Homo sapiens: one gene and its partner. The protein of the gene in region 1 purifies or fractionates together with the protein of each later gene. This does not show direct contact. Each region holds a gene or a part of one and is shown in the gene's direction. Other genes may lie near its edges. The genes, in order: FOLH1 and CTH.

Region 1 (4,611 bases):
AATGTTACTGGGTGATCCCACGTTTTACAAATGAGAAGATATATTCTGGTAAGTTGAATACTTAGCACCCAGGGGTACACAGCTTGGACAGGACCAGGTCCAAAGACTGTTAAGAGTCTTCTGACTCCAAACTCAGTGCTCCCTCCAGTGCCACAAGCAAACTCCATAAAGGTATCCTGTGCTGAATAGAGACTGTAGAGTGGTACAAAGTAAGACAGACATTATATTAAGTCTTAGCTTTGTGACTTCGAATGACTTACCTAATCTAGCTAAATTTCAGTTTTACCATGTGTAAATCGGGAAGAGTAATAGAACAAACCTTGAAGGGTCCCAATGGTGATTAAATGAGGTGATGTACATAACATGCATCACTCATAATAAGTGCTCTTTAAATATTAGTCACTATTATTAGCCATCTCTGATTAGATTTGACAATAGGAACATTAGGAAAGATATAGTACATTCAGGATTTTGTTAGAAAGAGATGAAGAAATTCCCTTCCTTCCTGCCCTAGGTCATCTAGGAGTTGTCATGGTTCATTGTTGACAAATTAATTTTCCCAAATTTTTCACTTTGCTCAGAAAGTCTACATCGAAGCACCCAAGACTGTACAATCTAGTCCATCTTTTTCCACTTAACTCATACTGTGCTCTCCCTTTCTCAAAGCAAACTGTTTGCTATTCCTTGAATACACTCTGAGTTTTCTGCCTTTGCCTACTCAGCTGGCCCATGGCCCCTAATGTTTCTTCTCATCTCCACTGGGTCAAATCCTACCTGTACCTTATGGTTCTGTTAAAAGCAGTGCTTCCATAAAGTACTCCTAGCAAATGCACGGCCTCTCTCACGGATTATAAGAACACAGTTTATTTTATAAAGCATGTAGCTATTCTCTCCCTTGAAATACGATTATTATTATTAAGAATTTATAGCGGGGATATAATTTTGTATGATGATTCTTCTGGTTAATCCAACCAAGATTGATTTTATATCTATTACGTAAGACAGTAGCCAGACATAGCCGGGATATGAAAATAAAGTCTCTGCCTTCAACAAGTTCCAGTATTCTTTTCTTTCCTCCCCTCCCCTCCCCTCCCTTCCCCTCCCCTTCCTTCCCTTTCCCTTCCCTTCCTTTCTTTCTTGAGGGAGTCTCACTCTGTCACCAGGCTCCAGTGCAGTGGCGCTATCTTGGCTGACTGCAACCTCCGCCTCCCCGGTTCAAGCGATTCTCCTGCCTCAGCCTCCTGAGTAGCTGGGACTACAGGAGCCCGCCACCACGCCCAGCTAATTTTTGTATTTTTAGTAGAGATGGGGTTTCACCATGTTGGCCAGGATGGTCTCGATTTCTCGACTTCGTGATCCGCCTGTCTGGGCCTCCCAAAGTGCTGGGATTACAGGCGTGAGCCACCACGCCCGGCTTTAAAAAATGGTTTTGTAATGTAAGTGGAGGATAATACCCTACATGTTTATTAATAACAATAATATTCTTTAGGAAAAAGGGCGCGGTGGTGATTTACACTGATGACAAGCATTCCCGACTATGGAAAAAAAGCGCAGCTTTTTCTGCTCTGCTTTTATTCAGTAGAGTATTGTAGAGATTGTATAGAATTTCAGAGTTGAATAAAAGTTCCTCATAATTATAGGAGTGGAGAGAGGAGAGTCTCTTTCTTCCTTTCATTTTTATATTTAAGCAAGAGCTGGACATTTTCCAAGAAAGTTTTTTTTTTTAAGGCGCCTCTCAAAAGGGGCCGGATTTCCTTCTCCTGGAGGCAGATGTTGCCTCTCTCTCTCGCTCGGATTGGTTCAGTGCACTCTAGAAACACTGCTGTGGTGGAGAAACTGGACCCCAGGTCTGGAGCGAATTCCAGCCTGCAGGGCTGATAAGCGAGGCATTAGTGAGATTGAGAGAGACTTTACCCCGCCGTGGTGGTTGGAGGGCGCGCAGTAGAGCAGCAGCACAGGCGCGGGTCCCGGGAGGCCGGCTCTGCTCGCGCCGAGATGTGGAATCTCCTTCACGAAACCGACTCGGCTGTGGCCACCGCGCGCCGCCCGCGCTGGCTGTGCGCTGGGGCGCTGGTGCTGGCGGGTGGCTTCTTTCTCCTCGGCTTCCTCTTCGGTAGGGGGGCGCCTCGCGGAGCAAACCTCGGAGTCTTCCCCGTGGTGCCGCGGTGCTGGGACTCGCGGGTCAGCTGCCGAGTGGGATCCTGTTGCTGGTCTTCCCCAGGGGCGGCGATTAGGGTCGGGGTAATGTGGGGTGAGCACCCCTCGAGTTAGGAGGAGGGTAGCTGGGAACGGTGCAGGGCTGAGTTCTCGACAAGCTGCTGGTAGGACAGTCACTCAGGTTGAGGGTAGAACTGAGAGAACCTGAAACTGGGCGTAGGAAGGTTCCAAGTGCTGGAGCCCTGCAAGACAGAGGAAGTTTTTTTTTTGCTTTTGTTTTGTTTTGTTTTGTTTTGTTTGTTTGTTTGTTTTTTTACCTCTCTGTGCATTCTTTCTTCCTTGGAAGTAACAGAGGCAAGCTTGGGAACTGTGTGAACCAGGTCAGCAATCTGGACAGGTCTTTACCAGCGGGTCTTTTGCTGTTTTTCCTGGGTACTGATTTGCAGACTTGATCCAACTTTCTAAGAAAAGCAGAACCACACAGGCAAGCTCAGACTCTTTTATTAAATTCCAGTTTTGACTTTGCCACTTCTTAGTGGCCTTGAACAAGTTACCGAGTCCCTCTCAGCGTTAGTTACCCTATTTTATGATGAGGATAATATTATCTGCAAATTATTGGTAATAGTAAATAATATAGCATGTAAATCTCCTAGCACAGTACTGGGATTTTCGCCACTTTATTTCTTCTTTTACCAAGATACTCCTCATTGGACTTTAATACACAGGACTAGTCTAAGGTATCACCAGGTAGTCCACTCCTGCTCGGAATTCTTGACCCTCTTTCGGGATTTAGAAGAACAGGGCATGGACCAGATGGGTTTAAACAAATTCAATATCTTCCACTAGCTTCACCTTGGGGTTGTTAAAAGATTTTTGAACCACACACTGTGCTCATAACAATCTTCATCTCTTAAAAGGATTTTATTCTTCCTGGTATTGCCCTCACTCTCATCCCTGTATTCCGTGCTCAGTGGCTGACACAGAAGAGTTCTTTATTGATGTCCGCCCCCCACCCACTAGGATTCTCTGCTCTCCCCTCCCCCTACAGGCCTCCATCCTCTTCATCCTGTTCATTTTTCAGATCTCAGTTCAAGCATCTCGTCCTCAGTGTGGTGTTTCCTGATCCCTCACTCTAATCCAAGTCTTTCTGTTTTATGCACAGGTGGAATCTTATTTCCGTTTGCGTGCAATCATGTATTTTAATATGCATGTATATATGTATGTGCATTTGTATGCATGCGATTAAGAACTAGAATAATTAATAATTGGAAAGCTCCATGAAAGCTGGTTGGGGACTAATTTTGTAACTACTTTATTCCCAGATCCTGTAATTTCTCTAAATAAACCCTGGAATCTTGCCTTATCTCCTTCAGGTTAAAAGCCAACTGCAAGGTCTAATGACTGCAGGATCTAGCTATCCATTGTTTCTGGCCGCCTATGCGTGCACTGGGTGTCTGGCAGAGAGGCTGGGTAAATTGTAGTTTCATTGTAGCTGTCTGAACTTGGATTTCTCACGCCTACTTCACTGGAAACGCAAACTCTCACAGCATTTTGTTTTAGTTTCAGAATCAGAGCAAATTAGAAGTCTGAATTTCCTTCAACACTTGGAAATAATTTATTTATTTGAAATATATTCATAATTAATTCGTTATAAAAATGTATTAAATGCTTATTTGAGTCAGCAGAGGAAGATAGAAACTTTATGAAAGTAGAAGGTGGATCTCCTTTTTGCCTTCATTTTCAGAACATCTCGTTTACACCCATTAGTTGAAACATTAATGTCATTTTATTTTCGTCCTGATTATCTCATAAAACATTTCTTAGAATAACAGCAATACCTATCATTGAAGTTGGATAAGAAATATTTTGCAATTGGTTTGCAACTTAAAAATCTGTTTGCATGACTCTTTTTCAGTGAAAGTAGGCAAGAGAAATTAAAATTCAGAAATATCTCACCTAATGTCAGAGGTAATATTGATAATTTGTGTTTTACAAATAATACATACAACAATAATGAAAAATAAGTCCTATCTATAGGCTCGTATCTCATGCCTATTTTTGGATGTATTTTTCAGGGTGGTTTATAAAATCCTCCAATGAAGCTACTAACATTACTCCAAAGCATAATATGAAAGCATTTTTGGATGAATTGAAAGCTGAGAACATCAAGAAGTTCTTATAGTAAGTACATCCTCGAAAGTTTATATGGACAAGTTGTTAGAAAAATTTATCATTCTGTTTTGGTCCAATATTTTATATATAGGAACTGGACTTTTTTCTTAAAATTTTATTTATTAAAGATCTTGGATCACATTTCATCTGAGGAGGACTATACTTTCAGCTAAATTTTGTCATTACAGAGGTTTAGAGCAGGAGTCAGCAAACTTTTTCTGTACAAGGACCAGCCTTTGTAGGCCAGCTGATCTGTGTCACATCTAGTCAGCTCTGCTATTG
Region 2 (3,817 bases), on another chromosome or scaffold:
AGTGCTGGGATTACAGGCGTGAACCACCACTCCCGGCTTGACAGTGTTTTATTAAGTGGAAAGTCTACACTTTTCACTCTGGTTGTAAACAAATACATTTTAAGACTACAGGATTAACCTAGAGGACATTATGTTAAGTGAAATAAGCCAGGCACAGACAGACATATATAGCATGATCTCATTCATGTGTGGAATGTAAAAAATGTTGATCTCATAGAAGTAGTGAATAGAACAGCGGTTACTAGAGTCTGGGGAAGGGAGGGTGGAGGTGGGGAGGACAGAGGATGGTCAATGGGTACAAAGTTACAATTAGAAGGAGGAATAGAGGAATAAGTTTTGGTGTTCTACTGCACAAAAGGATGATCATAGTTACAATAAGATACTGTATATATCAAAATAGGAGAGAGGATTTTAAATGTTTCTACTACAAAGAAATGATAAATATTTGAGATGATGGGCATGCTAATTACCCTGCTTTTGATCATTACACAATTACACATGTATTGAGCATCACATTATACTCCATGACTTAAAGGATTAATTTACAGGAAAATTGGGTGAAAGAAAACACTTTTAAAAATTCCTTTTCATTTTTATTTTTCTTAATTCTCCCAGTTTCAGACATATTTATTTATTTATTTATTTATTTATTTGAGACAGAATCTTGCTCTGTCACCCAGGCTGGAGTGCAGTGGTGTCATGAAAAGCTCACTGCAACCTCTGCCTCCTGGGTTCAAGTGATTCTCCTGCCTCAGCCTCCTGAGTAGCTGGGATTACAGGTGCGTGCCACCATGCTCAGCTAATTTTTTTGTATTTTTAGTAGAGATAGGGTTTCACCATGTTGGCCAGGCTGGGCTCAAACTCATGGCCTCAAGTGATCCACCCACCTCAGCCTCCCAAAGTATTGGGATTACAGGTATGAGCCCCCGCACCCAGCAAATTTCTTTCTTTCTTGTTGTTTTTTAAGATAAAGTCTTGCTCTGTCACTCAGGCTGAAGTGCAGCGGCTTGATCATGGTCCACTGCAGCCTGAAACTCCTGATCTCAAGTGATCCTTCTGCCTCAGCCCCCTAAATTGCTGGGATTACAGGAGTGAGCCATTCTCCAACTCCCAGCCGTCTAGATTTCTTGTAATACCTAATACAATGTACATGCTTTATAAATGGTTGTTACACTATATTGTTTAGGAACTAATGACAAGAAAAAAGTCTGTACATGTTCAATACAGACACAACTGTTCATCTATTTTTCCAAGTATTTTTTTACCCATGGTTGGTTGAATCCATGGATGTGAAACCCACACATAGGAAGGGCTGAGTAATTAGGAATCAAGATCATGACAAACCCCAAATGTAAATAATCACAGCATACGTCATGAGGTTTTAATGATTAAAAATCTAAGCAGATGAGTTTATACTTACTCTACATAAAAATTGCTGAATGTTCATTTCAACTATTTTATGTGTTTAATGAGTCATAAAATACTAGAGTCTCTACTGTAGGTAATAAATTTAGAGTCCTGTCAGCAATTGCTATAAAGAAACAGGTTCAAGAGACCAGTTGACCTGGGCTTATCTGCGCTTTCCAAGAAACTTTTGCCTTCAGATTCAATACTGGATTCAATACTTTACATTTTTCTTTGGTGGGAGGGAGGCAAAGGAGAAATAATATCAGAGATCCTGGAAAATTTTAAGATGCACATACTTTTGCAAAGTTAGTATTGATTAGAATAAGAATGGAATTTATAATTGCAAATAGGCAGGTAATGAAGCATATTTTCAAATTGTTTCTCATTTAAAGTAAAAAACTTGTTCTTTCAGCGCCCTTTGGCTCTGGGAGCTGATATTTCTATGTATTCTGCAACAAAATACATGAATGGTAAGATGCATACTTTGAATGTTCTTTTTCATGGATAGGTGAAAATTGCATAGGGCTTGGCTTTTGATCCCTTTTCTTTGATTATTTTGTAGATTATTTCCTGTGACTCATAGAGAGAGTAAAAAAAAAAATCCTTTGATTAAATGTAGGATTTCATTAACAGTACACAAAACTATGCTCATGATTTATGAGAAGAGGATTAAAGTTGGCCATAAAAAGTTATGCTTTTATCTTGCTGACACCTTAAAGAAACATTTTGTTTTTATATAATTTTTATTTTCTTGTTTTAGACATAGCTTTTGCTACTGTCCAGTTGAATAAAGGTTACTTAAACTTATTTTATAGAGCTTTTTCCCTGAGAGTTTTTTCAAGTGAAAATCACATTTTGAAAATTATAAAATAAAGAGTAAACATAAATTGTTTCTAACTGAAATTTTTGTTTGTTTGTTTGTTTTTTGTTTTTAGGCCACAGTGATGTTGTAATGGGCCTGGTGTCTGTTAATTGTGAAAGCCTTCATAATAGACTTCGTTTCTTGCAAAACTGTAAGTATTAAAAAGTGCAGGTTCCCTATGACACTCTCAGTGACTACATTTGATATTTGTATTTCCACTAAGTGATGTGAAGTGATGGCATTCTAATAATTTATGAAGAAATGAAAAATAGAGGAGAAAAATTCTGATTTTTTTTATTTATTAATTTTTTTTTTTGAGATGGAGTTTCACTCTGTTGCCCAGGCGGGAGTGAAGTGGCGTGATCTCAGCTCACTGCAACCTCCACCTCCTGGGTTCAAGCGATTCTCCTGCCTCAGCCTCCTGAGTAGCTGGGATTACAGGTGCCCACCACCATGCCCAGCTAATTTTTTATATTTTTAGTAGAGACGGGGTTTCACCGTGTTGACCAGGCTGGTCTCAAACTCCTGACCTCAGGTGATCCACCTGCCTTGGCCTCCCAAAGTGTTGGGATTACAGGCATGAGCCACCGTGCCTGGCCAAAAAAATTTTTTCTGATTTTAGAGGAAAGTGTTATAAAAATAGTTATTGCAGGCTGGGCACGGTGGCTCATGCCTGTAATCCCAGCACATTGGGAGGCTGAGGCAGGTGGATCACTTGAGCTTAGGAGTTTGAGATCGGCCTGAGCAACATGGCAAAACCCTGTCTTTACCAAAAATACAAACCAATTAGCCAGGTGCAGTGGCATGTGCCTGTGGTCCCAGATACTCAGAGGCTGAGGCAGGAGGATTACCTGAGCCTGGGAGGCGAAGGTTGCAGTGAGCTGACATCGTGCCACTGCAATCCAGCCTGGGCAACAGAGTGAGATCCTGTCTCAAAAAACAAAAAACAAAAACGGTTATAGCATAGCAAGGCTTTATGATATGATATAAGAAATGAGTTTTTTTATTTTCATGTCCATCTTAATTATAATCATAATTTGATAAAGCCCTAGTGAATTTTTAGTTTCAAGACTTAATGGTTTTTTTTTCTTTTTTAAAATTACATTTGAAATGAGGGCTTTCATATACTATACCTTTTATATCACGAATGATGGTTAATTTTAAATAGCACTTACAGTATAAACTTACATTTTTCAATAGATGTCTAAACACCATTTCCTATTTACATTGCTTAGTTTATCTCCAGTATAGTTAAAGATTAAGCCATTGTAACTTGACAGGTAAAATATAAACATGATTAGGAATAAAAATGTCCTCCACAAGGGAAACTGAAACTTATTGCTTGATAAGTGTCCTTTGGTTTATAAAAAGTAGAAATGAAGTATATATCCTGGAGGCATGTGAAATCATTGACCGCTTTGCACAAAGGCTAAATAGAATATTAGTAGAATATTCAGTAATAATAGGACTTGAACTGCTGTTTTTCTCTGTATGTTAAAATAATTTTTCAAAGAAATACAAGGTTAGGCTATGAACAATTTATGATTT

What was found.
Region 2: the proteins of FOLH1 (region 1) and CTH fractionate together in Homo sapiens (co-fractionation; one large-scale study listed by BioGRID). This does not show direct contact.

Annotation. Positions count from the first base shown.
Region 1 is NC_000011.10:49,205,794-49,210,404, reverse strand, and holds the start of FOLH1 (glutamate carboxypeptidase 2), read left to right. Parts: upstream 1-1,802; 5' UTR 1,803-1,995; coding exon 1,996-2,113; coding exon of another isoform or gene 2,114-2,181; intron 2,182-2,509; exon of another isoform or gene 2,510-2,641; intron 2,642-3,530; coding exon of another isoform or gene 3,531-3,627; intron 3,628-4,232; coding exon 4,233-4,338; intron 4,339-4,611. UniProt on the Homo sapiens protein: Has both folate hydrolase and N-acetylated-alpha-linked-acidic dipeptidase (NAALADase) activity. Has a preference for tri-alpha-glutamate peptides. In the intestine, required for the uptake of folate.
Region 2 is NC_000001.11:70,427,975-70,431,791, forward strand, and holds part of CTH (cystathionine gamma-lyase), read left to right. Parts: intron 1-1,819; coding exon 1,820-1,877; intron 1,878-2,342; coding exon 2,343-2,420; intron 2,421-3,817. UniProt on the Homo sapiens protein: Catalyzes the last step in the trans-sulfuration pathway from L-methionine to L-cysteine in a pyridoxal-5'-phosphate (PLP)-dependent manner, which consists on cleaving the L,L-cystathionine molecule into L-cysteine, ammonia and 2-oxobutanoate.